Linked DNA regions of Homo sapiens. The protein of the gene in region 2 interacts with the protein of the main gene of each other region in a pairwise test. Each region holds a gene or a part of one and is shown on either strand. Other genes may lie near its edges. The genes, in order: IPO13 and ALX1.

What was found.
Region 1: the proteins of ALX1 (region 2) and IPO13 interact in a two-hybrid assay, tested with the Homo sapiens proteins (one large-scale study listed by BioGRID and IntAct).

The regions. Positions count from the first base shown.
Region 1 is NC_000001.11:43,956,711-43,960,533, reverse strand, and holds part of IPO13 (importin-13), read right to left. Parts: intron 3,725-3,823; coding exon 3,558-3,724; intron 3,340-3,557; coding exon 3,219-3,339; intron 3,133-3,218; coding exon 2,985-3,132; intron 2,558-2,984; coding exon 2,376-2,557; intron 2,293-2,375; coding exon 2,266-2,292; intron 2,074-2,265; coding exon 1,939-2,073; intron 1,789-1,938; coding exon 1,645-1,788; intron 286-1,644; coding exon 205-285; intron 1-204. UniProt on the Homo sapiens protein: Functions in nuclear protein import as nuclear transport receptor. Serves as receptor for nuclear localization signals (NLS) in cargo substrates.
Region 2 is NC_000012.12:85,286,489-85,290,311, reverse strand, and holds part of ALX1 (ALX homeobox protein 1), read right to left. Parts: intron 3,460-3,823; coding exon 3,331-3,459; intron 1-3,330. UniProt on the Homo sapiens protein: Sequence-specific DNA-binding transcription factor that binds palindromic sequences within promoters and may activate or repress the transcription of a subset of genes.

The DNA.
Region 1 (3,823 bases), on a different chromosome or scaffold from region 2:
ATATTAGAGTCCTTACGTTAAGCACTTCTCATGATATTGGGGAGTTCTAAATGTCTTCCCAAAAGATTCCTTATCTCTATGGGGCAGGATTCACCTCCCTTGTTTTCTCCAAACCATTGTAAGCTGAAGTGTGGCAGTAACATCTTACCCTGCTACACCTCTGAGCAGTCACTATGGGAGCGGAGGGCAAGGGTCAGGGCTCACCTCCACAACCTGGGCATCATTCAACCATTTGCTCAGCACCTTCTGGATAAGCTGGAAGACCTGCTGCAGCACCACCACCACCTGAAGGCACAGGAAGAAGTGAGGCGCTTCTGCTATCCATCACTGTGACCCACTTGAGGAGGACTTGGTGGCAGGGAGGAGGGGAGCAGTTCAGACCTATTACCCCAGAACACACATTGAGGACCCAGGGCATGGGACCCCTGGGGGAAGAAGTGGTTTGCTGAACTCTCTCATGAATGAAAAAGGAGTATTTCCTGAATTCTAGGGATCATCTCAAAGGAAGCCTCAAACTGCAAAGCAGAGATATCACAAGTGCTTCATAAGGTTACAAAAACTTTGTAAACTTAAAAAAAAATCTCTCCCTATCTCTGCTCTGTAAAACCAAGGCTATGGGCTAGCCTCTGAAGAAGTGGAGATGCTATCTCCTCCAAATAGGCTTGAGGTAGGGAGCCCCAAGGAATGCACAGATGCAGGCTTAAGCTGCTCTCCCAGCTTATGGAGGAGCAGAGAGCAGACTGAGGTCCTGGGAGGTGAGGAAAGGCAGGATGATGACTACCATGTAAAGAAGCAGCTCTGTGGGATGACAGTGGCCCAGGGGTGGTCTAAAGCCAAGAGGCTAACTGAAACTGGGTTGGGGAGTTAAGCAGAGAGGCCAGGATGCCTATGGCTTCCTTTTCTCCTGGAGAAATCTGGGAGGGAGTTCTGGGAACAACGACTAAAGCAGTCCCTTATATTTGTAAAGAACTTTACAATATGCAAACTACCTTCACTTAAGACCACATCTACTATCCAGCACAGTTCTATGAATTGAGTAAGCCAGACATTTCAATGTTCATAGTTTTTAATGGGAAGCTGAGGCTTGCCCCAGATCAAGCAGCTTGTAAGTGGTCACCCCAAAACCTATGCCCAAGCTTACCACAGGACTTATCACACTGCTTTGTGACAATTTGAGCAACCTGAATTTCCTCTACACTGGGAGCAACTTGAAGGCCAGAACTATTACATGCGGAGGAGGTAATGAGCATCCTTAGTGCCCACAGGGGACAGTAAATGTTGAAGTAGAAGGCCCTACAGAGCTAGGGGTTGAACAGGGGCCCATAAAATCACTTAAGGGTTGAAGGATATAACGTCAATGTCCCTCATGGGGCTGAGGAATCTCAATGACATCACCCTAATTGGGCTGGGGACAAGGACAACATCACACACAGAGCTGAGTGAGATAATGACATTGCTGCCTACAGAGTGAGGCAATTATAGGTCATTCATGGAGTCAGAGGACCAAATATATCACGCCCACGGGGCAGGGAGAACAATGACAACATTACCCACAGAATTGAAGAGTGACAATGACATTCCCACAGGTGGGGGTTGGGGGGATGGCAAAGACAAATGTCTTTGCCGTGGGCAAATGTCACCCACGGGGTTGGGTCCCTGTGGCACTGGCAGCTTCCGAAGCTCAGGGCCTTCATGATCATCCTCATGATGACTGATGTCCAGTGTGGTGAAGAGGTTGGAGAGAAGCCCCAAGATGTGAACAATGGCCAGCTTGTTGGAGGGATTGGGCTGCAGGGAGAAGCAAACCAAGCTCCAGATCTCCCAGCCCCAGTTTGGTCCCCAGATCACTGAGCCTCAGCTCTGAGGGCCAGCTCCAACCTCACCCCTCATCAGCCACAGCATCTCAGTACCGCTCCCTGGCCCCCAGAGCTCACTCACTATCTCCTCTGCCAGCTTCTCCAGTTGCTGGATATAGGGTGAGATAAGCGAGTGCAGGTTCTTAAGGATCTCCTCCACTTGAAGAGCTGACAGCAGGAAGCCCAGCGCCTGCATCAGCCACATGCACTGGCTTGTCTGTGGGGCAGAACATGGATGGTCAGTCCTGGCCACATCTAGTTGTGGGGTAGGAAGGAAAATGAGCCTCTTGGGAGAAGAAAAACAGAGAATAAGGGATAAGAGGAAGGGGAAGGCCAAAAAACAGGATTTCAGGGATAAGTGATTCCCACAAGACCTCCAAGGAGACCCCTAGAAACTTTTGAGCCGCACCTTGTGGATCTGTTTCATCAGCACATCCTGAGGGGAGAAAGAAGGAATGTAGTATCAGCACAGTGCAGAGTGTGCTCTGAGGCCCAGCACCATCCAGGGCCCCTGCATACCTGGGACACAGCCACAATGTTGGCAGCATAGGGAGGCAGGTCATACTTGCACTCTCGGCAGATCTTCTTGAGGGTGGACACAGAAGAGACAGACAGCTCAGGATTGCCTAGGGCATGCAGTACCAAGGGCAGAACACTGTTGATCATGACGGGGTGGTCAGCCAGCCATTCAGACAGAGCTCCTGGAGGAAGGAGGGAGACAGGAGGATCTTTGAGGCAGGCCAGGCTGGCTTTGTACCATGTCTCTGAGGCAAGCAGAGTTCCTGGCAGGGTCAAGTTGCAGCCCCAGCACAGAGTACTGCCCCATTCAGAGGACATATGCATGTGCATGCTCAAACATGAGCCTTACAGCTGAGAAGCAGGAAGGGGTTACTCAACAGAGGCCCAGTACTGCTGTTTCACTGACGGTAAACTAGCCTCACTGAATTGCAGCTCAGTGTGCCATCAGATGGACCCCCTAGACCTGCCAGGACAGTCAGTTTGTTACAACACTGATTGTGTGTAGGCATGTGGCTCTCCCATTCTGGATAGGATCCAGCATGCTGGCTGTGGCCAGGGTTGGGTGCTGTGGCTCTGGGAATATGGTCATGGGTGTGTGCCAGGTCTCACCAATGGTGAACATGACAGTGTCTGCCAGCTGCACGTTGCTGATGCTGATCCGTGGGATGAGGCCAATGAGCCCAGGCACCACATCAGAATAGTTGACGTCAATGGTCTCTGCGATGGATTGGAAGCCGTAGAGGAGGGCCTCTGTGTGCTGGGGAAAGAGGGTGCCACTGGCTTGGATGAGGAGGAGGGTGTGACAGGTCTGGGAAGGCTGAGGGAATCAGGCTTGGGAGGTACCTGCCAGGAGTAGGGCTCCTCTGAGCTGGTGAGCAAACGACCCAGCTTGTCATAGAGGTTGCTGAGCAGCTCGGCCCCCAACATCTCATAGACATACATGAGCGTGTCTGAGATGTCCACCCTGAGAAGCAGATGAAGGCCTTTTATACTGCCTGGATCCTGACCCTGGATCCTGCCCCCAAGCCCAGGAGCCTACCCCAGTACCCCCACAACTCTGCAACAATACCTAGAAAACAGAAAGGAGCACCAAAATTCAGAAAGCCTGGACTTGGGCCCCTTCCCTCATTGCCTTCATTATTTCTGGACTCCATTTTAGAGGAGTTGGCCTGCTACCATCACCTGTAAATTCGGAACTGCTCCTTCTCGTCTGAGGACCAGAATCCATATTCCTCATCAGAAGGGAACTGGGCCTTGTGCAGAAGCACATCCACCAGCTGGAAGTAGACTGGCCGGTACACCTGCTGGTATACAGCCTGCTTCTCTGCCTCAAAGGATAGAATATCATCCTGAGAGAGCCAGGGAAGAGAATTAGCCACCTCACCAGCAGTCATAGAAGCCCATGATCCACCTTCTTCCACCACAGCCCAGTCCTACTGGAGGTCACA
Region 2 (3,823 bases):
TAGATACAAGAAGGAAGCACAGTGTCTGGCTTTAAATATGCCCCCAATTATTAGTAATTATTTTTACTGTTACAGCTGTTGCTACTATAGTAAAAAGACGGCCAGTTGAAACAAAGTATTTATTAGAACATATTAGAAAGTATTAATTACTATATAGAAATAAACATATTATGCTTGTACATACTGAGCAGGCTTGAGGAGATCATTTTCTAAACTATCTCTGTTTTTCATGTATTTCTATGTATGGCTTTTCTTTCTGCCAAATTGCTAATTCTTTATTTCTGTCCTGCCTCTAACATTTTCTAGTTTCCAACTTTTCTGAAATTAATAATTTTTTCTGTAATTAACAGTCACCAAATCCAATGTCTTATTAGACTGAGATATTGGATTCTACTTCTGTTTCTATTTCTCCCATTACAAGTTCCTATTTTCAAGCCCCATGATAAAAAAAACATTTCATTTAGGCTAACTCTTGAGAGACATGATCTTGGCCCAATTATTTTTTCAAACAAACTAAAAAAGTATCTTGTATATATTTAAGTTAAAATAAAAATTCCCCCGGCTTTATCCAGTATCTACAGTGGGGAGTTGCAGCCACATAATTTCGGAAATTTTGGTAACCAAACATTAAATGATTTACCAATACAAGAAAGTACTATGGACTTCATGGTATTAATTTTTATTATTATTCATGATTGGCACTGTTGAAGTAATTCCAACATATGTTCTCCATTCTTAAATTATCAGGTGGTATAGCCAATGTATACAAAATTATGAGGAATAATTAGTGCAACATTCCCATGATTTGTGGGGGGAAATTTTTTAAATTAATTTTTCATTGGAGTGAAAAAGATGATCAAATATATAATTTGGTGTACCATGTCCGTTCCTCCATCGGTGTCTAGGTTACCTCATTCTTTTAATTAATAATATATAAAGCTTTGAGGTACAATAACACAATGGTAAGATAATCTTAGGGAAATGAGATGGTTACTCAGAGTACACTGAGTCATATTGAGCATTTATACATGTCTTAAAGCTGTATAAAGTTTTAGATTCAGAATATGCACTATTCTGAATGCTTTACCCTTTATATAGGTCTTAATTGATGCTAGGCCCTATTCTGATTGCTTTATCAAAGAAGCAAGAAGAGTCAAATATAAAACAACCAACGTACAGGGACAGAAAAGTTGAAAACAGACAGAAATGGGGTTTGAAAGGAAATGAAGACTGAAAGAATAAAATGCACAAAAAAGTAGTCATAGTCAAGTGTTGTGGAATATACTTAGTAAGAGTTTAAAATCCATGTGAAGAGCTCATAATTTGTTACTTTATTACGTCTAAAGTCACCACAGTCAAGTAGTTCAAAATGATATAAACCATTCTCCATTTCACCTATATTTTTATTGTTATTTCTCTGGTTGTGGCTCCTGACACTAAAGCGCAGACTTACAATAATGCAGCTCAAACTTTATGCTCCTTTGGTATCATTTAAATATATTCACAGGTAGAGACAGTCTATTGTCAGGTTAAAATCTGGCAAGTGGGAACCAAATTGTCTCTGGTCAAATCTGAACTTCACCTTACCTCTTTCTCATTTGAGCAATGGAGACAATTAGTAACACCTAGCACATAAGGTTGTTGTGAGGATTAAATGAGATAATATATGTAATCTGCTTAGAACAGTGCCCAGATATACAGTGAGGGCTACTGTAGTGTTAATAACCATGAAGACACTGCAGTCCCTGTCCTCATGGAGCTTGCAGCCTAGAGGGGAAAGATTTTTACAGAATTTTGTTTAGAAACTAACGGCACTCAAACTAACTCACACTGACTCAACTAAGGCACTCAAAAATATTTGGCAAACAAAATTTGACTAGCCCTATGATGGTAAGTAACCACCAGAGGTAGCCTCATGCTTTAAAATAGGAGAAAACATAAGGTAACCTCTTTAAGATAAATTTTAAAAGAGAAACAAGATTCCTCCTATGGCAAGGAGATAGGAGGCATTTATTGAAAAGGTATCCATAAGAATAGTCTTCTAGCAAGCCATTGGGTAAAGGTTTAGACGTAGCGACCTTTACAGTCTCTCCTGCAGGAACCCACTTGTATGATCACAAACCAATTCCTTAACTCAATTGAGCCCGTTTTCATAACTTTTTTAAAGGAAGGAGTTGAACAAGGTGACCTCCAAGACTTCTTTTATTTAACATATAATATTATATTAATAAATTTGGGGGATTTATCTGGAGGAGTGAGGTTTCTAAAACTGGTTTTTAAGAATCATAAAAGGCATAGGAACACAAGGAAAGAACAACATTAAAGAACTGAATTTGTACTCATAGTGTTGAAGAAAATGAATACTCAAGTTTGGGGTTCAGATCATCTAGTTAGTGAACTATCAAGGTATTTCTCCAGCATATATGTTTCATATGTGTTTTCACATGGGTCTCTTATAATGCATATCATTAAATAATAAATAACAAAATAATGCATAGCTCGTTGCTTATAACGTAGGTTTTTTTTCATCATGTATCAAATACAGTTCTGAATATCATTATTAAGTATTAGGAAAAAGTGACACAAAATAAATTAGAAAGACAAACATTTACATTCATTACAAAATATGAAAAAGAAATATATAGTCTTATATTGAAAAAGAAAAATGAGAAGAAAAAGAATTTCTAACACTTTTTGTAATGAAGTAAAAGAGCACCCATTATAAAGGGAAGCTGTTACTCATCTGTGATTAACTTTTAAAATTATGTCTGATACTAATTCTATCTCTGTTTTAAGTCAAACAGGACCAAATGTGGACCTTTAGAGAATAAGCAATTTGAAAACTGAAAAAAAAAAAACATAGAAAAAGAGACACATTTTTAAATGGAGTTAAGGGCTTAATAGGCCACATTTGACATCAGGTTTTAGTATAGTTCATAAAACAATATCCACAGAGATTGCATGCTAAGCAACACTCTATTTACAGTATTTTTAAAAGTTAACAAAAGGAAGAGAGTCTGAGTAATTAGAATGTAGGATAATTAAAATACCTGTATCATTAAATGATGCTATTTCATTGGTGGCAATATACAACAAAATTCAAAAGAAAAAAATACCCTGAAATATTTTTAAATGAATGACTCTGTAAGAAAACAACAAGAAAATAATTCAGAAAAATTAAAACTTAGCAGACATGAAGAATGTTTTCTGAAGCTTAGATTTTCATTCTTGGCTATTATCTTACATATAATAAAGCCTATGCTAACCATTTTAAGAATATACAAACCAAATATCCTTTTCTTGATCAGTATTCTGTGTAGTTTAGCATACCTGTGGGTAGCTGTCAGTCCTTGGCAAAACTGATATATCATAGGTGGCAGCAAAATGGCTTTTCGCTTGTTGTATTTGGCCATAACGTTCCCTTTTTCTCCATTTGGCCCTTCGATTTTGAAACCAAACCTAATTATTTAATAAAAATTAGAATTTTAGCTAAGGAATATTTGATAAAGCAAATGTGATGTTAAAAGACATCAAACAAGAAAGGTAAACCAGGTTAAAAAAATTACGTAAAAAGAAATGTATTTATGTTAGAAAAGGATCCACAGATTTTACTTTTTCTTGTATCTTGATGTGGTAAGTGATTTTCCCATGAGACAAAATAATTTAATAGAAAGAGGCAGGAGACTTTCGGGAAATACATCTGATACGTCTGAGCCTCTGTTTTCTCATTTATGGAAAACAAAAAGCAATTAGATTATATGATCCTGAATACTCCATATATCTCCACATTGTCATGGATAAGTCTCCTTTAAGAGAATGCTGC